Regions from separate parts of the Homo sapiens genome. Here regions 1, 2 and 3 are each linked to region 4. The links come from fine-mapping of genetic effects on gene expression. A gene starts in region 4. Each other region holds a variant in brackets. All regions are shown on one strand. Distances are between the middles of the regions.

Region 1 (6,570 bases), 100 kb after region 4:
CAGAATGAAAAAGAAAATGAAACCCAAACTTTTGAGAAAGCTTTGCCTCACTAATATTCTTTTTTAGGATGTTTCTTGAGAATACAGGCCAAGAAAACAAGGGACTTGTTGAAGGAAATGAAGTGGATTGGGTCTGTGAAACAGTGGAACAAATTCAGAAATGCAGTGAACGCAAGTTCCAGGATAGTTATGCAACAGGAAGCCTGTCTATCCAGATTGAAAGACTTCAGGACTGTAAGAACTGCCTGTAGAAAAAAAGGAGTTCCTGGATTTGCTAGTATTCTGGAAATGTTGGAAGAATCTAGTCTAATGATGCCATAAAGGAAGACAATTCAAGACAAAGTAAAAAGGCAATTTATAATTTAATTGAGTAGGGTATATGACAAAAAGCTGTACCAAAAAACAAATAGAGACATAGAAGGTAACTTTCATGGACAGTGAATACTGTTTACACAGATGTAGCATAAATAGCCTTTACTGATTTTCAAAAATACAGTCCACCTGTAGGCAAAGCAAGAATTGCTTAACTATAGTTACAAAACAGGTTGTAAATGTGAAGCATGATAGTGTAATAAAGGAACCAAAGATGAAGACAAGGGTAAGGGATACAAAATTCTTATCTGGCAAAGTGAAGAGGGATTGTTTATATTGAAGCAAGAACTGTGAGTTACATTATTTAAAGTTGCAAATGTAATAAGTGCAATGCTGACTAGTGATATAATTTATTAGCTGTTATGAGTAGGGAAAATTTGTGGTGGTTTAATGTAGTTAAATCTTCATCTATCTTGGCAGGAAGTGAGTATGCAACATCTAAGATTGAGACATCAAAAATTCACAGCATGAGCAGATTGTTTACAGATGGGGTAACTAAAAACAATGAGGTAAATGTGGTTGCCTCTGGGAAAAACACTGGAGGCATTGGAAAGGGTTGGGTTGGGGGCCTGTTGTTTTTTGCATTCGCCCCCTTGAGTTCATTTGTTCTTTCATCTAACAGACACTTACTGTTTGCCAAACACATGTAAATGAAACGACTTTACTGAAGATTTGAGGACGTGAGATATTTTCTGTCACCACAGTGCCAGATTTAAAATTGAATATTAGAGAAACTTGTTCTTAAAACTTTTTGCTAGGCACTTTATGCCAACCATGTTGCTACCCTCTTCTCTCCGTTCCTCTTACATTCTCATTCTCTAACAACTTTTTCAGTCGTCTCACACCCATACACAGTCTTGTTTGTTGGTGTTATGGGGAACTCACAAATGGAGCCATAAAGAAGAAATATGACCTCTCCTGTGTTTCACCTCCAGTGGGGTTGACGGGAGGTCCCAGGATTTCTGTGAAGGGGATTTGTAGTTTTGGAGTTCCAGATGGTGACAACTCGAGCAGCAAGCCTGATGAGCATATTGAGCAGACTACTAAGAACAGGAATGAAAAACAAACAAACGAACAACAACAACAAAAAAAACACCCTTCTCTTTCCCACCTGTACCAGAATAGTGGCTCTGAACCATGGCTGCATATTAGAATCACCCAAGGAGCTTTTAAAAACATCGATGCCCAGGCACCACCTCTTCCCCTTTTGATGCTCTTCCTTCCAACTCCCACCACTACCAAATAAATTGAAAATGTAGTGAAGGGACCTCAGTCCCATGATTCAAATCATTAATATAAAAGTCACCTGCAATTTCTGCACAATTGATTGAATTGGGCAAAACAGATTAGAGCATTGAACCACTTTGTCGACGATTTTCAACCTGATATTCTAAGGAAGAGAACTTGCTCAGAATTTTGCATTGGCTGTTCCTTCTGCCTGGGACACTTTCCCTTCCTATATGCATAGCTTACTACCTCACCTCCTCAATGAGACTGACCTGCCCGCCAGGCGCCAAAATGGCACTCCCAAGCTCACTCTGCTCTACTTTCTTTTTATCGTAGCACTTATCAGTGTCTAACGTAGAATTTGCCCACTTCTTGTACCTATTGTGTAATGTTTGTTTCCACCCACTAGAATGTAAACAAATATGATCAGGTATTTTTCATTTCATTCACTGATGAAACTTAAGTATCTAGAACAATACCGAACATGACTGAGCACTCAATAAATACTCGTTGAATTTCAGTGGCCTCTCAAATAGCATTTAACTCATTATCTCCATAAAAGATAAGTGTTAACCCATGTTATGTAATATGTTTGGAATGTGCTAGCATTACACGCTTGCATAAAGTTTTTTGAAGAATTATATACCTCACCAGGCAAATATTCTGTACCCCTATGAAGCCTGCTGGATATCTGGGCTGTCAGTCAGAAGATCTGGGCTATAATCTCATGTTGTCTGTTAAATAAATATGTAATATTGATCAAAGTACTTCATTCCTCTCAGTGTCACTTAGGTTATTTATAAAAGAAAGAGGTTGATATAAATGAATTCAATTTTTTTCTCTTCTATTATATAGTACTTTGTGACCACATGTGAGGTTGAAATACAATAAAATGTTAATTTTGTGTTTTTTATTTTCTTCTGATAGCAATTAAAATATGCAGCTATCTCCATATTTCAAGTCCAATTTACTATAGTAGTTAAGAGCTATCCCCTTTGGAATCAGATTGTCTTGATTTTAACCCTTGATTTACTGCTTATAACCTCAGTATTTTTTCTATAATTTTATTTATTTAATTTATTTTTCTGTAGAGATAGGGTCTTGCTATGTTGTCCAGGCTGGTCTCAAATTCCTAGACTCAAGCAGTCCTCCTGCCTCGGCCTCCCAAAGGCCTGGGATTACAACAGATGTGAGCCACTGCACTGGCCCTTATCTCAGTATTAAACAAATTATTCAATATTTCTCTGCCTCAGTACCCTCATCTGTAAAATGAATATAGTAATATCAATTTCAGTAATAATTTTTATATTTATTATGAAATTAAATTAGATAACTCGTGCAAAAACATTTAATACAGTGTGTGATTCATGATAAGAGCTAAATGATTAACTTTTTATGAAATACTAACTTTAGTAATACCTTCTGTTTACATGCATTTGTGAAAATAAATGATGACCAATAAAATGAGAAAAGCAAAGGCTATTTATTCTGAGCTTGCTATAGCAAGGGAGTCGGCCGTTTTCACTGGCATTTTGGC[G/A]GACACTCAAAAGCAGGCAAAAGAGTGGAAAAGCTTCTGGGATGCCCTGATCAGAGGCAGTTGGCATGGGGGTACTGGATACAGGCAAACCAGAAGCAGAGCATGTATGTGATTGATTAGGGTACATATTTGGCTTTATCTAGTTGGTTCTAAGTTGGAAGTGGGGACAACAATTAGGGAAGCTGTCAGTTATTAATCAAGTCCTAACGATTTGGGACTGATTGTTTTGTTTAGCTTCCTGGATTTTCACTAGAGATAGCAACCTGGCTTCCTGCAATTCTGACTTACATCAGACTGGCTTTCTTGACTGTTTATTGTAGATAAGAGGGTTGCTTCCCTGGACAGGTTGCTAAAGGTTGTTGGTCAAAGTTTGATTTTTATATATGTTCTGGCCATTGTCCATTTGCATATTCAGTCTCTCAGCCTTTATTAGCAAAGTTATTAAGAATATTCACCATTGGAAAATTATTTTCATTTTTTTATCAGAGTTTGATTTAAATATTGCTGTATGGTTGGTGCTGTATAAACCTATCCAATCAGTATTTTGCAAATACATTACCTTCCCTTAATCCGTTTTATCTTTTAAAAAAAGGCGTTAGAATAAATACAACTTGGTCGGGCGCAGTGGTTCATGCCTGTAATCCCAGCACTTTGACCACTTTGGGAGGCCAAGTTGGGTGGATCACTTGAGGCCAGGAGTTCGAGACCAGCCTGGCCAACATGGTGAAACCATGTCTCTACTAAAAATAAAAAAAATTAGCCAGGCATGGTGGGATGTGCCTGTAATCCCAGCTACTCAGGAGGCTGAGGCAGGAGAATCACTTGAACCCGGGAGGTGGAGGTTGCAGTGAGCTGAGATCACGCCACTGCACTCCAGCCTGGGAGACAGAGTGAGAGTCCATCTCAAAAAAAAAAAAGAATAAATACAACTGTTCTTTGTATTTTTGATGTTCTTTTTACCTAATCTTCTTCAGTGCTGATGGGTCCTTTGAATTTTAAGATGCAAAATTATATTTGGAAAGGGACCCATTTCCTACATTTCCCCCCAGAGCGTTCAGAATTTAAATTTATGCCACTGAGTAGGATGCTTTTTATAAAGACACTAATATTATTTTTTTCCATTTAAGTGTATTTTTGTTGTTTTGCCCTTTATTCTCTTTTAATTTTAAAAGACTAGTCTCCCCAGTCAATAAAAGTTTGTATGACCTAGCAGTTCTTGCATATGTATAGTATGTATATTCATTGTTACATGGCTTCTTGATTTGGATATCAGTCACAAGAGGTACTTAACAAGTAACAGTGACTTATTGGAAGACTCTCATTCCTGTTGAACATCCACTACAATTTTGCATTTATTCTCTATAGAATTGAAAAAGAACTGTAATGCCAAATATACCAAATACAAGGTTATTTGGAAAGAAAACATGAATTTCCACCATTATATAATTTATTCTTGATATGCTTCTATGGTAGGAGAATAATTATTAACTTGGCATTTTAAGGTATTTAAATTGCAAAACTATTTTTAAAATAAGATAATTTTCATTTATGTAATAGTGATATTATCAGTTGCATAGTATTACTAGAATATCCATATTTTTTCCTTGTTCTGCGACTAAAAACAGATTTTATAAGTACCAGAAATCATAGTTTTAATTATAAATGTAAATTGTTATTTTTAAAATTTTGTTTTAGAATATGTACCAGTCATGACACAGTTAAAATAATGATTTGATTAACTAATAATTACCTGTTACTTTACTATAACTAGGATATTTGAAAAGGGTGTCCTTTTGGGAGAGTGCCAAGAAATGTGCTTGTGTGTATTTTTATGTTAATTTAATAGAAATCAATGAAAACTCATGTTAAGTATGCTAGAAATTTAGTGTGGCATCCAGAGCTCAAAACTAGAGTTTGCAATCAATTTCCAAAAAAGGATGTAAAGCATATCTAGTCTTCCATATGCAATTCCAGGGTGGCAGGGGAAATTAGTCTTTCCTGTTTAAAAAAACATGTATGTAAGAGTTAATCTCCAGAGTTAAGTAACAAAAGACCACCAGAGTTGTAGATAAACTAATGAAAGAAAAGAGATTTGAACTCTATCCATTGAAGTGTTTTTTTTTTCTCATGAGTATATATTTTATTTGCAGGAGGATTCTGTTTGGCTCCTGTACAAATCTGCCTGCTCTGACTTACAATACAGCCTTGTTCTTTCATTGTCATTGTATTCCTTCCTTCCTTACAAATACTTATTTCAAAGTATCTTTACAACTAAACTATATCCTTTTTTCTCTTCCTTGGCTTACAAATTCTCCTATTTGTTGTGTCTGGCTAATACTTTCTTACAGTGATTCACTTATTTCCTTAAACAGATTATAATCTCCAACTGTAAATTCTTCTCCAGCAGGGGGTTGATTTGGGCATTCTTGTTATGTACTCAGGATATGGAATCTGAACCACAGTGTAGTTTCACATTTGCCTCTGCCTAGGCTGATGGATTTTGCCATACCTGGACCAGTTACAATGCAAACATCTCAGTTTAGGATCATTCCACAGTTACCTGCAGGCGGAGGTGCTGGCTTCCAGTGGGTGACTTCTTTTCCACCTAATATTTTAGACAGAGGGCAAAGCTTCCTTACAGTTTCCTAGGCAGGGTCAGTGGCTGAGCTTCTTTCATTTCATGGGATGATCAGCCCCTTACGACTCCTGGTTGTATGCAGGGAATTTAGTTTGGAGATTTTCCTGTCAATTTCAAGCTTGACATTACAACCAAATCTTCCATTATTATATTTGATCCATGTGTTTGTATTGGGAGGAAGGGGTCTTTCTAATATCAGCTTGTGTTGACATGTTAACCTACAATTCATTGATTTATTTAATATTTGTAAGTCTTTCTAATCTTTCATTATATTATTGTTTCTTAGGAGTTCTGATTGGATTTATTAATCATTTCCTTATCACTATAATAACATTTACTTGTATCATGGATACAAAGGTGATGATAAGTAAAGAATTTTTCGTTTTCCCCACCCCCCTTGAAATAGTTGGCTCAGTTTAGTCTAATAATATTATGTGGTTTCTAAATGACCATCATTCCTCGGGCACAGTAAAATTATTTTTTTTCCAAAAGGTTCAAGCCAGAACTTTGAACTTGAATTCACTGCTGGTATGCATAATACTTAATACCTTTATTATTATTTGGCATCTAGTTAACAGCCAATGAAACCACTTTAGCAGAAGCATTTACATTTAATTATTCATTACTCAGAGTCAGAATTCCATTCCATAAGAGTAGGACTAGCAAAAGCCAAGAAAGTTCTAGATAGGCTGAACTATTAGGAAAACCAATACATTTGACACTGACACATGGAACAAAGCAGGCCTATTTTTAAATCTGAATTAAGTAAAAGTGGACAGTAGAGTTTTGGCTTTCA
Region 2 (6,570 bases), 110 kb after region 4:
TAATTTGCTTTTCATGAATTATTAATATTGTTGAGCATCTTTTTGTTTTGTTTTGTTTTTGAGATGGATCTCACTCTGTCACCTGGGCTGGAGTGCAGTGGTGCGATCTTGGCTCACTGCAGCCTCCACCTCCAGGGTTCAGGTGATTCTCCTGCCTCAGCCTCCAGAGTAGCTGGGATTACAGGCGCCCACCACTACGCCCAGCTAATTTTTTCAATTTTTAGTAGAGACGGCGTTTCACCATGTTGGCCAGGCTGGTCTCGAACTCCTGAGCTGGTGATTCACCCGCCTTGGCCTCCAAGAATGCTGGGATTACAGGCATAAGCCACCACGCCTGGCCGAGCATCTTTTTATGTGTTTATTTGCAATTCATATATCTTCTTTAGTGAAGTGGGTATTCAAATCTTTTGCCCATTATTGGGTTGTTTGTTTTTTATTGTCTTGTTTTTTTGTTTGTTTGTTTTTGTTTGTTTTTTTTGAGACAGGATCTTACTCTGTTGCCCAGGCTACACAGTAGCCTCAAACTCCTAGGCTCAAGTGATCCTCCTGCCTCAGCCTCTTGAGTAGCTAGGACTATAGGCACACACCAATATGCCTGGCTAATTTTTTTTTAAAAATGTTTGTAGAGACAGAGTCTCACTGCATTACCCAGGCTGGTCTAGAACACTTGGCCTCAAATGATCTTCCTGCCTTGGCCTCCCAAAGCATTGGGATTACAGGTGTGAGCCACTGACCTGGCCAGTTTAGCAATTCTTGAAAAATGAATTTTATTAGGAAGAGACATTGTGGGTTTATCAAACATCTGGAGTGGTTTTTTTTTTTTTTTTTTTTTTTTTTTTTAGACAGCGTCTCACTCTGTTGCCAGGCTGGAGTGCTATGGCACCATCTCCGCTCACTGCAACCTCCGCCTCCCAGGTTCAAGCAATTCCCCTGCCTCAGCCTCCCAGGTAGCTGGGATTATAGGCGTGCACCACCACGCCCAGCTAATTTTTGTACTTTTAGTAGAGACAGGGTTTCACCATGTTGGCCAGGATGGTCTCAGTCTCTTGACCTTGTGATCCACCCACCTCAGCCTCCCAAAGTGCTGGGATTACAGGCGTGAGCTACCATGCCCAGCCTGGAATGTTTTTAAAAACATTTATTCTCTATAATTTTCAAACATGTTTAAGCTAATAACCCTCTTCCATTAAAATATATTTAAATTTCTACTTTAGAAGTAATATATGGTCATTACAGAAAATTAAGAAAAAGGGTATATATTTCTGTAAAAAAAAAAAAGAAAAGAAAATGAGTCCAGATGTGATGGCTCATACCTGTAATTCCAGCACTTTGGGAGGCCAGGGTGGGTGGATCACTGGAGGTCAGGAGTTCGAGAGCAGCCTGGCCAACATGGTGAAATTCCATCTCTACAAAAAATACAAAATTAGCCAGGCGTGGTGGTGCACGCCTGTAGTCCCAGTTACTTAGGAGGCTGAGGCACAAGAATTTCTTGAATACAAGAGGCAAAGTTTGCAGTGAGCTGAGATGGTGCAACTGCACTCCAGCCTGGGTGACAGAGCAAGACTCTTTAAAAAAAAAAAAAAAAAGAAAGAAAGAATAAAAGAGAATTAGAGATATAAGAAGCATACCACTAAATGTAACAACTGTTAATATTTTGTATATTTCCTTCTATAATATACATATATGTACCGATATAAACATATACTAGATATATATACACATACTTTTAAAATTCTGATTTTATTAAATATTCTTTTAAAATCTTATTTTAATAATTTCCTAATAGTGTACACTATTGTTTTATATCATAACATTTAATTATATTCCTTCCTGTTGAGCATTTAGGCATAAAACATGGGATTTACTAACTTAAACATCAAAACCAGGTAAGTCCCATTCTGAACTCTTCTCTTTGGGTTTTTTTGTTTGTTCATTTGCTTGTTTTCTCTTTTTTGAGACGGAGTCTTGCTCTGTCCCGGCTGGAGTGCAGTGGCCCGATCTTGGCTCACTGCAACCTCCACCTCCCGGGTTCAAGCAGTTCTCTTGCCTCAGCCTCCTGAGTAGGTGGGACTACAGGCACGCATCACCACGCCCAGCTAATTTTTGTATTTCTGTATTTTTAGTAGAGACGGGGTTTCACCATGTTGGCCAGGATGGTCTCGATCTCTTGACCTTGTGATCCGCCCACCTCGACCTCCCAAAGTGCTGAGATTACAGGCGTGAGCCACCGCACCTGGCTCTTTTCTGTGTTTTTATCCCGCAGTGTACTACAGGTTTGGGTTGGCTCAGGGTTGAGGTCTTTTTGTATCAAATCCAGTTGTCCATTGAGAAAGCTAGATGGTCATGGCCATATCTCTATCACAGTTCTCTTCCTCCACTCCAAATATACGGCCAAGGTCTAATATAAAACTCTTTAAATGAAAGAGTGGAAAGCAAACCATGTTGTGTTCTAATGGATGTTACATTCACAGATTATATTAGAGATCAGGCTCCTCCCTGCTTTAAGAGACATAAGGAATTCATTTAAGGTAAGTTATTTCTTACCAGAAAAACAAGTTCTTTATCTGGAATGACACAATCTTTAAATAAATAAAAGAATTTGAGTATGCAGTGTTGTCTTTCTGCAGAGAATGTCTTAAGAAAAACTAATTTGTTCTGAAAATTGAAACATGGAAACGTGGACAAACAGCTAGAAAAAAATTTTTTTAAGAAAAATTTAAGACTCATATTTCCCTTATATACTTTTTAAAAATCAACCTCATAATTATATAAATAAGACAGAGCTTAATGGCTAGCTAAGCTAGGTCAGAAATAAAGCAATCCAAATGAAAATTTAGAAATGTGGTTGGTAATGGGAGCACAAGGGGCTGGATGGGAACAGGGAGTGAGAAGGAAAGCTCACAACAGTCCATTCCTAAAGCCCTCTGCAAAGACTCTTCACACCTCACTGAAATGGGGGAGGGCTCTACCCTAGGACACAGATGGGTTTACAGCAAGGACACCTAGCCACTTCCAGATATCTCAAATGTCCCACAGGCTTCTTCCCTAGATGAACCCTTAATGAGACCTTGGATAATGTGGAAGTTAGAACAGTGAACTACATCTTGAGATTGTTGTCCCAGAGGTATTATGGTAATTTAGTGAAAGCAGCTGAAAGCAGGGTTGAGTGTGTGACTGGCATGATTGTCAGGGGTCGGTGGGTAAAAATAAGGAAGAGGGCACATGCTAATAATTAACATCAAGCACTTCTAAGAGGATTGTACATATTAATCCATGTATACCTCACACCACCAAGTAAATATTTTTATTATAAAAAGTATTTTATTCCTAATAATAACAAATCATGTTTGTATATCACTCATTGGACATAAGCGAAGCCAAGGAGGATCTAATTCTTGACTTCCCTTCAGATAATAGAGTGTTAACAATAGTTTTTAAAGGATGGGTAGATTACTACTTAACGCGGAATGAGAGGGTGCAGCCTGACCAGCTCAGAAAGCAACTAGGCTTCTC[A/G]TTTACATTCTGGGAGCAGGTGGATTTTTGCCATCTGAGCTTGTTACTGGTGAGTGATTACCTTTTTACCTTCTATATTTAGTGCCTTCCTAGGACAGTTGCTTCTCCCAGGCTAGTTGCTTCTTTTAGAATCTTACCTGGCTATTTATCTAAAGATTGGACAAGCAGTGTAATCCAGAAGCAAAAATGTTGACTTTTCTTTTTACTTAAATCAAGAGATTAGAAAATGCTATTTCCTGGGAAGTGAATAGAAGCACACACTTAGCTTGACCACTGTCCCAGAGTGCTTTACATATATTAATATATTTAGTCCTGACACAACCCAGTGAAAATCCCCATGTACAGTATAAGGAGATTAAATCACTTACTCAAGATCACATAGCTCAGAAATGGTGAAATCAAGATTCCAACCTTCAAAGTCTGGACCCCCAGTACACTCTAAACCACTATACTCTGAAAACATCAGTGCCATATGCACCTAGTCATGTATACTTGGAGAAATCACTGCGTATCTCAGTTTCTCTACTTTTCTTCCGCTGATTTACCTGCCTTAGAAAATTGTTGAGCATGGGAAATGATCATATATATATGAACGTGTATAATGCTACAAGATACTGTTTTAAGCATAAATATCTAGCAGTTGTGAGATCTCCCTTAATGATGATGTTATGCTACTACTTCTTTTCACTACTGTTGGAACTCCCAGAGCTGACTCTTTACATGCCTTTTTCAGAGTGTATGTTTTAGGACAAGATGGGGTTCAGGGGACAGTGAGCATTGGACAGCAGTCAAGAGGAGTTTGGTTATGCCTGTTGGTTGACTTGGTGCTGGTTTGTGGTCCGCTTCTCCATTGCTTTTTATTTTAAATCAGTGGCTGCTACTGCCAACTACCCTGGTACCTCTGAGTGCCATGGTTCTTGCACTGCCAAGGTTCTTGCACTGCCACAGATTAGGACCAAATATTGGGGAGAGATTATTAAATGGTAAGGATAAGGGGATAGAGTGATCGCTCTGAAGTAGGGCTAGAGGCAATATAGTTGAGTGAAAAGTAAAATCACAGCAGTAGGCATGTGATTAATATAAAAATCACTTAAAAATTAGCCAGAATATTAGGCTAGAGAAAGAGGAGGGAAAAAAGTATCTTCCCTTCTTCCTAGTCCTGTGACTATTCAGTTAACACAACAGTTCTGAGACTAGAAATGAATTGTAATAAAATAATAACCAAACCTCCTGCCAGACTAGAAGAAAATATAAAACCTTGTAGTTCACAGTTTTCACTGATCTTAAAATTTACAACTTTTGATCAGCATCCTGATGATGTTATTTTAATTTTAGATATCTTAGTAAATACAACTCCATAACTTAAGTAATTCTTATTAAGAACTAGAATTGATTTTTAAACACCTAAGAAAAAGCATAAATCCAATAAGCTGGCTTAAATAATACTTTAATTTTTGCTATTTGTAGTGTTATGCTCTTTGCTAAGCAAATTTTATTTTATTCTTATTTATTTATTTATTTATTTTGGAGACAGGGGCTCACTCTGTCCCCTAGGCTGGAGTGCAGTGACACAATCACTGCTCACTGCAGGCTTGACCTACCGTGGCTTAAGCAGTTCTCCAACCTCAGCCTCCAGAGTAGCTGAGACAACAGGCATGCATCACCACAACCAGCTTGTTTTAGTAGAGATGAGGTTTCGCTACGTTGCCCAGGCTGGTCTCGAACTCCTGAACTCAAGCAATCCACCCGCCTCAGCCTTCCAAAGTTCTGGGATGGCAGACATGAGCCACCACGCCTGGCCTAACAAATTTTAAGATTCTTTTGTTATTCACATGCTTACTGCTGTGGCTTTATTTATTTTATTTTATTTTATTTTATTTTATTACTTATTTTTTTTGGTTGAGATGACATCTTGCCCTGTTGCCCAGGCTGGAGTGCAGTGGCACGATCTTGGTTCACTGCAACAACCTCTGCCTCCTGGGTTCCAGCGATTCTCCTGCCTCAGCTTCCCGAGTAGCTGGAACTACAGGTGCCTGCCACCACACCTGGCTAATTTGTGTATTTTTAGTAGACACGGGATTTTGCCATGTTGGCCAGGCTGGTCTTGAATTCTTGACCTCAGGTGATCCCCCTGCCTCGGCCTCCCAAAGTGCTGGGATTACAGGCGTGAGCCACTGCGCCCAGCCTATTTTTGACACTCACTATAGTTTTGGTTCTTGTGGATTGTCAGATATTACACTGAACAATTGGGACTTTTTTTTTTTAGATTGTACAAATAGAACATTTGCCACAGTTAAAATGTGAAGAAAACATACTATTTCTATTTTGGAAAATTTCTGCAGAATGTTTTTCTAAAAGACAAAGCATGTTTCATTGTTTACTTAAGGCATAAAGGTCCCATTTATATTATTCAAAGGAGGGACTGTAGGGCTTGGGGAATATAAGGTATTTGAAGCAAAGAGGGGTTTAAGAAATAACTCAAATGATTAAGATTTCCAGCATGGAGTTTGTTTAGTGATTTCATCAATCAGTCGCTATTTCTAGATGGAAATGGGTCTAATAATAATGCAAGCTTTTAGGATTTGATTATATTTTAGACAAAATAAGTTTAATACCAAAAAAAAAAGTTATCATGTGTTAGCCGAGTTCCATTTAAAGATCCTGGTATTTTTACTTATTAGCATAGTTCTTTCTGCTTCTGTGGGCCTCAGCTATATGAATGTGGTGCTTATTTGCTTTATACTATATTCCATTTTGTTAACTCAACAGAGACCAGACTGCCAACTGCAAAGTAAGTAATGCAATAAATGGGTTAAAAATACACCATGTCAATTTTGTACAGCTAAATTAAATAAAATATATGACTACAGGTTCACAAACCCTTACCTGAAACTTTAACAAAAAATTTTTGTCTGCTTGCTTTTTGTTTTTGAGATGGAGTCTTGCCCTGTTGCCCAGACTGGAGTGCAGTGGCACGATCTCAGCTCACTGCAACCTCTGCCTTCCGGGTTCAAACAATTCTCCTGCCTCAGCCTTCCGAGTAGCTGGGATTACAGG
Region 3 (5,000 bases), 43 kb after region 4:
TGGGAGGCCAAGGCAGGTGGATGGCTTGAACCCAGGAGTTCGAGACCAGCCTGGGCAATATGGTGAAACCCTAACTCTACAAAAAAATATATAAAAATTAGCTAGGCATGGTGATGTCTGCCTGTAGTCCCAGGTACTCAGGAGGCTGAAGTTGAAGGATCATTTGAGCCCAGGAGGCGGAGGTTGCAGTGAGCCAAGATTACACCACTGTGCCGGGCCAGGTATCAGAGCCCCAGCACCAGGAAGTGGTCAACTTGCGGGTTGGTGAAAAGAATTTACCGACAACAGTATAGATTTGGAAAAGGAAAGTTTATTAGAAAGGAAGAACACTGCAGAAGAATGCAGAGGGGTGCCTCAGCGAGAGGACTGAGCACACTGTGGCGGATTGTCCTTAGGAGCATTTATGGACCTTAAGGTGGGAGCTTGGGATTGTAAAATGAGTTTCACCATGGCATTCCAGAGATGTATAAAAATTTTAGTTACTTATAAAAGTTGAAAGAGGCCTGGAATCAGAAGCCGACTTTAGATACTAGGGAAGTTTGATTACTTCTAAATTACCCAGATAAGGAGTTTTGCCTCCAGTTAGCCTGTTTGATGGTCACCGGTTGGTCTTTGCCCCCTTCTAAATTGCTTAGAGAAGAAGTTTTGTCTCTGGGGCCTGTTCCATGGTCACCAGGTGATTTTCTCTCTCCTCACACTGCACTCTCCAGCCTAGGTGACAGAGTGAGACCCTGTCTCAAAACAAACAAAAAACCCTCCAAATCAATGACATAGCGTTTTTTAAACTTTTAAAATACTGCTTAGGGGTGAAAATAAATTTAAAATTCTCTTTCTACTTCATATATTGGAATTTTAAAAGCATGTTACAAATATTAAGGAACTGTTACTATTAACAATGTTATTAACTAATAACAAGTATTAACAATGATCTTGATGGGCATTTTCACATGGAATTTTCTTTTCTTAAAGCACCTCTTTACTAGTAAACAATTAAAATATCAATTAGAAGTATAAATTGTTGGCATCCCCAACATCTCCTGCTTGGACTCTGTGAACTGGAAAGTTTTGAAAAAGATTTAAATTTTCATCAATATTAGAAAGGGCTTAAGCTTTGAAGTCATTAGAACAAAATACAGTGCTTTGAATTGTAGTGTTTGTGTTCATCTTGAGTTGCTTTAATTGTTAAATGATAAGGTAAGGCCATTTTAAAATAAAAACTCCAAATGAAAAGTGTTAAATTATTTTTAATACATAAATCCCATGACATGTCCAGATCTGTATATAGTAATAGCTATAAAAGAAGGGCAAAAACAGATGGGTTTAGAACAGAGTTACTGCTCTCACTTTTATTTGTAGAATATAAACATCTTTGGCACTTATGCATGATTTACCATCTTTGCTTTTTAATCTTTTTAAAAAAATGGTCATTTTTGTTTGTTAATATGATTTACTGTACTACTTTTATTATTCAATAGGTCACATATCCTGGAGCAGGAAAACTTCCACACATCATTGGAGGATCAGATCTAATAGCTCATCATGCTCGAAAGAATACAGAACTAGAAGAGTGGCTAAGGCAGGAAATGGAGGTTAGTAGGAAGTGAGGCCCAGAAACTTGCTTAAATTGCACTTTGGTCCATTATGGTGGCCTTCAAGCAAATTCTTCTTAAAACCAAATTAAAATAAGTGACATAAAGTCATTCATTCAGGAGCATTCCTGAGTTACAGAGCATTAATCTATACCCTTCCATAACACTTCTTTAAAAGAATACTAAATTTATTTTTGTTAAAAAAAAAAAAAAAGGTGAGACCTAAGAAATTCAGTTTACATCCTAATGAAAAGGGGGAGATAAAAGCCACAAAAATTTAAGGGAAACTAAAAGAATGTGGAGGATATTACAAATATATCACTTAAATGTATGTCAAGGGACTGGCCTTTTTAAATCTGGGGATTGTGTTTTAACAATTCTGAAAATTTCTTATTCATTCTCTTGAATATTAGTTACCTTTTTACTGTTTTCCCCATTATCTCCTTCTGGAATTCCAACTTAACGTAAGTTAAATTTTCTTTTCCATTTGTCTTT[C/TC]CTGTGTATTTCATTTCTTTGTTTCCCTGGGTTATATTTTTGGCAACTGCTGCAGATCATCTTCCGATTTACTACTACTGTCTTCAACTCTAGTTGGCATTGCATCCGTTCATTTATTTTTTCATTACTGGAAGTCTGTTTTATTTCTTTCTAAATCTTCTTGTTCCTTGCTGTTTTTCAAGCTTCCCCTTTTATATTATTTGCCTAATGATACCATTACCTAAAATGTTTGATCTGTTTTCTGCTCTTATGTACCTTGTTTTCAAGTTTGTGCTTTGTGATTTTTGAATATGAGCTGATTGTTTTCTTTGTAACTCGATCTGTAGGGTTTTCTTGAGTATTAAGTTCAGATGTATTTCCTCTAGAAAAGATACGTTTTCTATCTTCGAGTCTTCTACCAATATGAGACCACTTCAAATTAAAATCTCTCCTTGTGATTCTTTGAATCACCCAGACAGTTAGTATGTATTAATATTTGGACCAGAAGCTGGAGTGAATGAAGGCTGGCTTATCATTAGAAACTTCAAATGAGATTTTTATTTATTTCCTTCACTAAGTGCCAGAATGAAGATGGGCAAGTTTCTTTCCTAGCTCCTTCTGTGTTGTAAGGTTTATTTCTCTTTCTTCTTTTAGTGCTGGGTCTTTTATTAAAGTCAACATCTTGGGTTTTCTTTCGTATCACTCATACCCCGTATAGACATTAAAGCAGAGTTCAGGTTTTTCATGACTTGCAGATACTCATAGGGCAAGGCAAAAGCTGACTGTGGTCCTTGCTAACCTCTCAGGGTTCCTTATTTTGCTTTATAGTGGGTATAGTGTAATTCACTTTTAAAAGTGCTTTTTTCTCAGTTATTTTAAAATAAGGGTTATTTAGGAAAGTCACTTATGAAAGTAGAGTTGTTAAGGTCACTCAGGATACTTATTTTTAAAAAATGAAAGAATGGAAATCACATCCTTTCTCCTTTTCTTTTTTGAAAGAATAATTGGCTTATTTTGTAACATGTGCATTCCACAGAATTATGGCAGTACACAAAGAATGAAGATGTGAAAACCTAAAGCCCAGAAATTACCTATTTAAACAGTTAAGTGAACAATATTCCAGACATCTCTTCATTGAGGAGTAGTGAGAGGCAGGGACAGACTGGGAAGGAAGAGAGAGACATTGATAGGAGGAAGTTAAACTGAAGGCATTGCTGAATTTCTATAAATGTTTCTTCCCTCCAAGATATTTTATTTTGTGAGATCTGTCTAATATTAAGGAGGAAAACTATAAAAATCACTGTAAGTCGGAATGGGTAGTTTTAAACTTCATATTAACTTCACATACAATTATTTGTTGGCTCGCTACAGTGAAAAGTGAGGACATTATTAGTACTTCCTCCCACCTAGCCTCCCTTACCTTATGCCAGTCCTGTTTTTCCCTTTTTAGGTGACTTGCATGCATGACCAGTCATCTTTCTTAAGCTCGAAAGCCAGTAACACTCAGAATACATCTCAGTGTTGATCATTCTCCATTAGTTTTTCCTGACATATAGTATGCTGTTTTGATTTGCAGGTGTAATTCTCTTTCTCAAGGAACTTTTTTCTATTATATATTTTAAATATTTTATATTTGCTGGGCTCTCTATAAGACATTTAAGACATAACTATCCTTTCATTGGATTACCTTTGTCGTCCACATCTATTTTTTCTGCATTCACTGTGGTTTTCTTAGGCTCTTTCACTGTATCAAAATTTTACATTTCAGGTGTGTCTATAATGTTTCTCACCAAGTATGTGACCTTAGGCAAATTACTTAATGTCTCTGCTTCCATCTGTGCAGAATGAGAATAATAATAGTACCTTTATTTCACAGACATATGAGGATTAAATCAGATACTACATATAAATCATTTATAACAGTGGGAAGTGTTAGCTATTTCTAATTTAATTCTGAAAGGCTGTTATTATGGTTCTTTTACTTAGCATTTGTTCTTTTTTCATTTCATTGTTCTATTATCTGATTTTTTGTCATTATTTCATTGCTTTCATGTTTCTATTTTACTTTTTATTCGTGGATTATTATTTCCTGCAGATTAGGTTCTTTATCTGTTTTTTGCATGTTCTGTTCCAATATCCCTTTTTTTTTTTTTCCTCTAGTAGATGGAGTAGCTTTTCTGTTTTTTGCCTTCACTTGAGTAAAGGGAAATGTCTTTTCCAGATATTCTGTTTGCTACATAAAGGATCATATGCCATCTCATGCAGGGATTACATTCAGAAGCCAGTTTGTGAGACAGAAATTCAGTATAATCAAAATTACTTCTAACATTCTTGTCTTGCCCATAAGAACAGAATTCAGCCAGGCACAATGGTGTGGCTCATGACTATAACCCCAGCACTTTGGGAGCAGGAGGATCACTTGAACCCGGGAGTTAAGAGTAGCCTGCACAACATCTTGAGACCCTGTCTCTACAAAAAAATAAATAAATGAAAATTAAACAAACAAACAAAAAAACACAACAAATTAGCGGGTCATGGTAGTGCATGTGCCCATAGTCCCAGCTACTCAGGAGGCTGAGGTGGGAAGATTGCTTGAGCCTGGGAGGTTAAGGTTGCAGTGAGCCATGATTGAGCCCCTGCACTTCAGCCTTGGTGACAGAGCAAGGCCACATCTCAAAAATAATAATAATAAATAAAATAAAAATTAAAGAACAGAATTCCCTCATGCCTCACTGTCAGTATGGCATTATGCTGAAACAGTCAGTGGCACATGGCATATCCCATCTAGTTTCTGTTGTCTGAAGACATTGAATCTGGGAGAGGAAAGGCTCAGCTGGAGCTGTGTGCAGCTTGGGCTAGCTGTCTCCTGGGATTTTAATTAAATGTCCTATACCAGGGAGTGTGCCCTATATAAAAGAGAATAACCTAGCATTATTA
Region 4 (6,486 bases):
AGAATCCTGAAATGATAGAGGCCAGCTGGTGGTACTTAACCATCCGAATGGTATAATTATCTTGAGTGGCAAGATTGAAGTGGCAGCAGAGCTCTCGACCCAGAGTGAGCTTAAAAGATGCTTAATAGAATAAGGCACCCCTGTGGGGAAAGACAGTTAACCAAGAGTAAACTCAATCTGTTCAGTGAACAGGTATCAAGAATGGAAGACACAAGGCTCAGAGCAGCAGCCTCAACAAAAAGTCACAGTCTCTTTCCGAATTTCCTGATTTGAGCCACTTTGCCAATCCAGAACCCATTGACTGGTGGAGAGGCAGGACTGCCAGTAAGAAGGACCCTGCAATCCCATAGCAAGAATATATGGTAATGACCTCCCCGCACCCCACCCTACTCTCAGTCTTTCCCTTAAGGGACCTATAGCCATTCGCTTGGAAAATCATACACTGAGGAAAAGAGAATGCCCAAATACTTGGAGGGCTGTGGGACATGATCATTATTGATACCCATGAACCCAAAATATTATGACTCCTGGTTAAAGCAGAGGTATTCAGAAGCCAGAGAGTTAAGGGAGTCCTTGTCCAGGTCTGGCATACAGTGGGTCCACCGAACACATAGACTTACGTGGTGGTCATTTTCCTAGTTCCCAAATATATAATTGAAATGAACATCCTTGGTAGTTCTTACAATACCCACCTCAGCTCCTTGGCCTGTAGGGTAAGAACTATCAACGCGGGCAAGGCCAACAGGGAGCAGCCTCAAATTGTACAGCCATGACAGTGAGCAAGAACAATATAGGGGAATGATAGATATTAGTGCTTTCTTTTTGGCTCCCTTTTTATCTCCATTTAATTCATCATACTTGACCTACAAAAGCCTAACAGTTCCTGGAGAATAAACAGCCGACTACTGCAATCAACAAAGTAATAACCCCAATTAGAGCTGCTGTACCAGATGTGAAATCTTTACAAGAGCAGAACAACATGACCTCAGGCAACAGGTTTGGGGTGATTGATATGATGACATGTGCTTCCCCAACCTTAACAGAAAGTAGAATCCAAAAGTGCTCATATTTAATTAGAAAAAATAATAGAAAATACTTGCAATGTTGACCCAGAGCTAAGCTGTATCTCCTTAACCTCTATCATAATGTATTCCCAAGAGACCTGAAGTGTCTGGACATGCTGCAGAACATCCACTGTTCTACTACAGTGATGGTATTATGCTCACCAGATTGGATGAGTAAGGATTTGGCAAACAGGTTGGAGGCCTTGGTGAGATATGTATACTTCAGAATGTGGAAGAAAATTCCTGCAAAATGTTGATGCTTCACTAAATCAGTGAAATTTAGGGATTCTATGATGCAGGGCATACTTTTGTGTGTCCTACTTAAGAAAGATCTGCCTACTTTGAAATCATGTTTTCTTCCACTAATATTTATTATTTTACTTTCCTATGTAAATAATGATTCATCTGGAATTTAGATGAATTCTAATTCATCTAAATGAATTAGGGGGATCAGTCTTCATTTCCTGTGTTATGTTAACACATTTCTTGTGTCACGTTAATAAACGGGATCATTTATTTGTGGGGTGGGGTGGGGTCACATGAGACTTTCCTTTGTTGCCCTGTAATCACCTTCGAAAAATCAAATTACCTTATGTGTCCACTTTTTTTAGGTCCCTCTATTCTGACTCATTTGCCTGTTTTCTATCCTTGTACCAAGCAAACACTGACTTAATAACTGTAACTTTATAATAGATCTTAGTATTTCATAATTTAAATATTCCAGCTTTGTTCTTCAAAATTGCCTTGGCTATTCTAGGCATTTGCATTTCCATATAAATGTTAGAATCTGCTCATCCATTTCTACTCAAAAAAAGCATTTGAGATTGCTGAAGTTACATTGAATCTATAGAACAATTTTGGGGGAAATGACATCTTAACAATCTGTGAACATGATCCATTATCCTTGCATTTATTTAGGACTTTTTAAACTTTCTGTCAATAATGTTATGTAGTCAATCATGTTTTGTATTACATAGTTTGATCGATGTATTACCAAGCACTCGATTATTTTGGTGCCATTATAATTAAACATGTAATTTTCTATTTATTTTCTGGAATAAAGGTATACAATTAAATTTTGTATCTAGATATTGTATCTATAACCTTATTAAATTCATTTATTAATTAAAATAGTTTGCCAACAGTTTTTTTGATTTTCAATATAGGCAATCGTGTAATTTGTGAATAATGACTGTTATTTCTTCCTTTCCAATCTGAATGTCTTTTGTTACTCTTTCTCCTTTATTGCATTGGCTAGAGCATCTAAAGCCATGCTGAAAATAAGTGGTAAGAGCGTGTACATCCTTGTTTCATTACTGATGTCATGGGGAAATGTTCAATAATTTACCTTAAGTATAACGTAAACTGTAGTTTTTTTTGTAAATGTCCTTTATCAGATCATGGATGTTTTCTCTATTCCTACTTTGCAGAGAGGTTTTTATCCTAAATGGGTGCTTAATTTTATCAATTTCTTTGCTACTATCAAGATAATCATGATTTTTCTCCTATTTAAAATTATTATGATGAATTACATTTATTTTTTCCCCCAATGTTAACCCACCCTTTTGTTTCTGGATAAATCTCACTTAGTTATGATTATTCTTTTTATACTACTACTTGATTCAATTTGCTAATATTGTGCTTAGGAGTTTGCATCTATGATGATAAGAGATTGGTAAACCAGCCTTTTTTTTTTTTTTTTTTTGAGACAGGGTCTTGCTCTATCGCCCAGGCTAGAGTGCAGTGGCATGATCATGGCTCACTGCAGCATCGAACTCCTGGGCTCAAGTGATCCTTCTGCCTCAGCCTCCTGAGTAGCTGGGAATACAGGAGCATGGCACCAAGCCCTGCTAACTTTAAAATTTTTTATAAAGACAGGGTCTTGCCATGTTGCCCATGCTGATCTTGAACTCCTGGCCTCAAGTGATCCTCCCATCTTGGCCTCCCAGACTGCTGGGATTAAAGGAGCGAGCCATGGTGCTGGGCCTAAACAAGCCTTTTTAAAGTGACTTTTCCCCCCTATTACAGAATGCTTTTGAAAGCCAAAATGTATGTGATCAGGAGTGTGCTCTCAGATGTTTATTTAGTAGTGCGCAGGATGTAGACTACATTATGTGGGACGTGGGTGGTGATGGGTTGGGAAGCTACTGGAATTAGGAGGAGAGCTTGAACCAGCTTGAGACAGGTGGAAGTGGAAAGGAAGGGTATTAAATACAGGAGACTGCCCAGTATTTAGCATGTGATTAGCTGAAAGTGTGGCATTATGAAATAAAGACGTTAAGACAAGTTGATTTGAACTTAGAAAAGAGTAAAAATAATGAGTTTACTTCGAGGTGAAATCCTTATCTTCATCATTATTATCACCATTACTAGATTCCAAAGGAATACCTGCAATTTAAGAAACTGCAAACGCACGAAACTACATAACTGGTAAGTATTTTAATGCATTTAATTAAAAATTTTCCTTATGTTGCTTTGGAGTTAGTTTTTAAAATTCTTTTCGTTCATAATCAGGAAAGGTAGTAACCTTACATTCAGCGACACCTTAGAAACATACCCTTTTAACGCAGCACATTTCAATACAGATTGTGCTGTTCCTTTTCCAACCACCAGGTGGCGGGCAAGCGCCCAAGTCGCACTCCCGCCTCATCCAAGGCAGCCTGCGTGGCTCCCGGGAGCGCGCACGTCCCGGAGCCCATGCCGACCGCAGGCGCCGTATCCGCGCTCGTCTAGCAGCCCCGGTTACGCGGTTGCACGTCGGCCCCAGCCCTGAGGAGCCGGACCGATGTGGAAACTGCTGCCCGCCGCGGGCCCGGCAGGAGGTAAGGGCAGAAGGGAAGCCTCGGGGCCTATTTTCCCGGTAGCGACTGCCTCGGGGGAGGGCCTGCGGGTGATTCCTGCGTCGCGTCCGTTCCTGCCCGGGGACGCTGCGGAAGCGGTCGCAGAAGCGGCGAGTACGCTGTATGGCAAGCGCATATTCTTCCCGGGCAGCACGGCGGCTGTGAGCTGGAATTCAGCGCGGGCGGTGGGGTGATTGCGGCGCCCCCTGGTGGCAGTCCTCCGCGCCCCTCCCCTGACTCCCCCTCCCTCCCAGCCTCACCCCCGCGCCGTTGCAGCGCTAGGGCTGGATGGCCTGCGGGTAAGCGGCAGCAGGCGCCTAGTGGGAACCCCCGGCAGGAAGTTAGCATGGGCGGACCACACGGGGGCCACACATGACTTGTGAAGAACTACTGGACAGTTTGGGGAAATGACTACCACGAAAAGGCTTACTTTCAGTTTTGTTTCAGACTCCTTTTCCACAATGTCATCAGAACAATGGGAAAAGTCGATTTTTTCCCATTCATTTCCAGCGGTGTGAAATGTGATCACATGTTAATTGGTTGCCCGTGGTGGGTGTGAAGGGTCTTGTCCTCGGGAAGTTTACATGATGATTGGCAAAGATCTATGTAGAGACTAAATGGACTGGCAGGGTAAGAGAGTATGGAGAGCGCCAAACTAAATAAATTTTATACTGTGAAGACTCACAGGTCAAGGCGTCCCTGGAGACCTGGCTCTTCTGGACTCCCTACTCTTTATCTGCCCTAATCTCCCTGCCACTCGGGTAATGAAATTATGCTCCCAGACTCAACTCCGCATGTCTCCAATATATATACTGTTACTCCAACAACTTATGATTTACAGCAATTTTAAAAGAAACTGATAACCCTTTCCCACTGATTGGAGATGTTATCTTTAAGATAAAAACAAATTTTCAAAAAATGTACACGTGCATCTTAGTCTGGACTTTGTTGCATTGGTCTGTGTTGTTTACTCATGGTCCAGTACCATACTTTTAGTTTTATGGCATATTTTGCCATCTGGTAGGGCAAGCTCCTATTATATTATTCACATTTTTCTTGATTTTTTTTTTTTTTTGAGACGGAGTCTCACTCTGTCACCGAGGCTGGAGTGCAGTGGCACTGTGTCGGCTCACTGCAACCTCCATCCCCTGGGTTCAAGCAGTTCTCTTGCTTCAGCCTCCCAAGTAGCTGGGATTACAGGCTTGAGCATCTTTTTTTATAGTTTCCTGATATTTTTGTTTATCAAGTTCCAAACATAATATTGTGATTGTTGCTAGGTAATACATTAAGTTTTTAAGTTAATTTGAGGGAACATTGACTCCTTTCAGCATTGCTTTCCCTTTAGAAAAATGATGTAGCCTTCTATCTGTTTAGATAACCTTTTTTTCTTTTTCTCTTTTTTATTGTATTTTAAATTTTGTTGTTGTTACTCCTGAAACACCATAGTTAGATAACCTTTGATAGCCTTCAGTGAGGCTTTACTGAAAACACAAGTTTGACATATGTAAAGTTGACTAACATTTGAATAACAAAGGTGTTTTATTTAATATTTGTCATACCTATATCATATACACTTACATGTATGTGTGTGTTCGTGTACATGTGTATGTGTCTATCAACTTATCTTTTTTTAAAAAAAAATTTATCTCAGGAGAACCATACAGACTTTTGACTGGCGTTGAGTACGTTGTTGGAAGGAAAAACTGTGCCATTCTGATTGAAAATGATCAGTCGATCAGCCGAAATCATGCTGTGTTAACTGCTAACTTTTCTGTAACCAACCTGGTATGTTACTAATTTTATTTCACTAGTTTCCAGTAAGGGGGTTGAAATCACAAAATATTCTCTTGGTTTGTATGTGAGAGAGAGTTCACAGGATTTGTCATTTTATAGAGCTGTGTAGACTTTTTTAATGTTAACAAAATTAAATACTTATATTGTGGCAGTGGTACCAGTGGTATTTGTTCATTTTGAGATTTGAAGTTTCTATTTCAGTAATTTACTCTTTGTTTTAGTTAGAAACTCAGAGGAAGTAGGACATAGTTATTTTTATTTGCTTACTAAACATTTATTGTTTACTATTAGTTTGGTGCAAAAGTAATTGCTGTTTTTGCCATTAGCAGTAATGTGTTTTTATGTGTCAGTAACTGTGCCAACCCTGCGAATAGAACAATGAACAGACCTTCATGACTCTGGCTCTTAAAGAGGTTATGTAGCTGTGTGGAAACGGGCATTTCTCATATAATACAAGTTTTTGCAATGGGAATTGATTTGTTTTATTAGGGAAATGCTTACTTATGCCCCACAGCTCCTTTAAATGGCTTTCAGTTTGTTTTGATCATAACCTTGGGTGATAAAAGTGCTAAAAAAAATACATAGGAATATCTGTACTCATGATAACGCTGGTGGTAATAAGAAAGATGAGCCATTATTTTAATCAAAGATTGCATATATGCGATATGAATTTCTTCAGTTTTATTTAGGTTTTGTTTCTGTTCTTTTAGGTATAGAAAAACATTTTGGAAATTTCTACAGAAAAAGTAAAATTGTTACTGTAAGTCAGAAACACTAGCCTATAACCT

Alleles and levels. Alleles are on the strand shown, and positions count from the first base shown. SD is a standard deviation of normalised expression in the study named. Not every link is listed here.
For the expression in Th17 cells of the gene that starts at base 3,744 in region 4, TC is the low allele of the variant in region 3 and C is the other (large effect, 1.0 SD a copy in Schmiedel 2018).

What was found. PIP is the estimated chance that this variant, and not a neighbour inherited with it, causes the effect. A credible set is the group of variants that fine-mapping cannot tell apart.
Region 1: its variant is the best candidate, but not a certain one, in a credible set for the expression of NBN in nasal epithelium (TOPMed, PIP 0.69).
Region 2: its variant is the best candidate, but not a certain one, in a credible set for the expression of NBN in whole blood (TOPMed, PIP 0.50).
Region 3: its variant is the best candidate, but not a certain one, in a credible set for the expression of NBN in Th17 cells (Schmiedel 2018, PIP 0.72).

Annotation. Positions count from the first base shown.
Region 1 is chr8:89,881,850-89,888,419 of GRCh38, reverse strand. It overlaps LOC124901974 (a long non-coding RNA gene), which reads left to right. Exons shown (of 2, transcript XR_007061001.1): 2 at 1-2,366. Among named protein-coding and RNA genes, the nearest start is that of OSGIN2, 17 kb to the left of the region's middle. The variant G/A (reference allele first, on the strand shown) is at 3,137.
Region 2 is chr8:89,873,360-89,879,929 of GRCh38, reverse strand. No RefSeq gene overlaps it. Among named protein-coding and RNA genes, the nearest start is that of OSGIN2, 26 kb to the left of the region's middle. The variant A/G (reference allele first, on the strand shown) is at 3,514.
Region 3 is chr8:89,939,842-89,944,841 of GRCh38, reverse strand. It overlaps NBN (nibrin), which reads left to right. Exons shown (of 16, transcript NM_002485.5): 14 at 1,476-1,589. Among named protein-coding and RNA genes, the nearest start is that of OSGIN2, 40 kb to the right of the region's middle. The variant C/TC (reference allele first, on the strand shown) is at 2,085.
Region 4 is chr8:89,981,925-89,988,410 of GRCh38, reverse strand. NBN (nibrin) reads left to right here and starts at 3,744. Exons shown (of 16, transcript NM_002485.5): 1 at 3,744-3,886; 2 at 5,556-5,689. The coding sequence starts at 3,850. RefSeq lists enhancers at 3,384-4,180, 4,312-4,651 and a silencer at 3,992-4,191.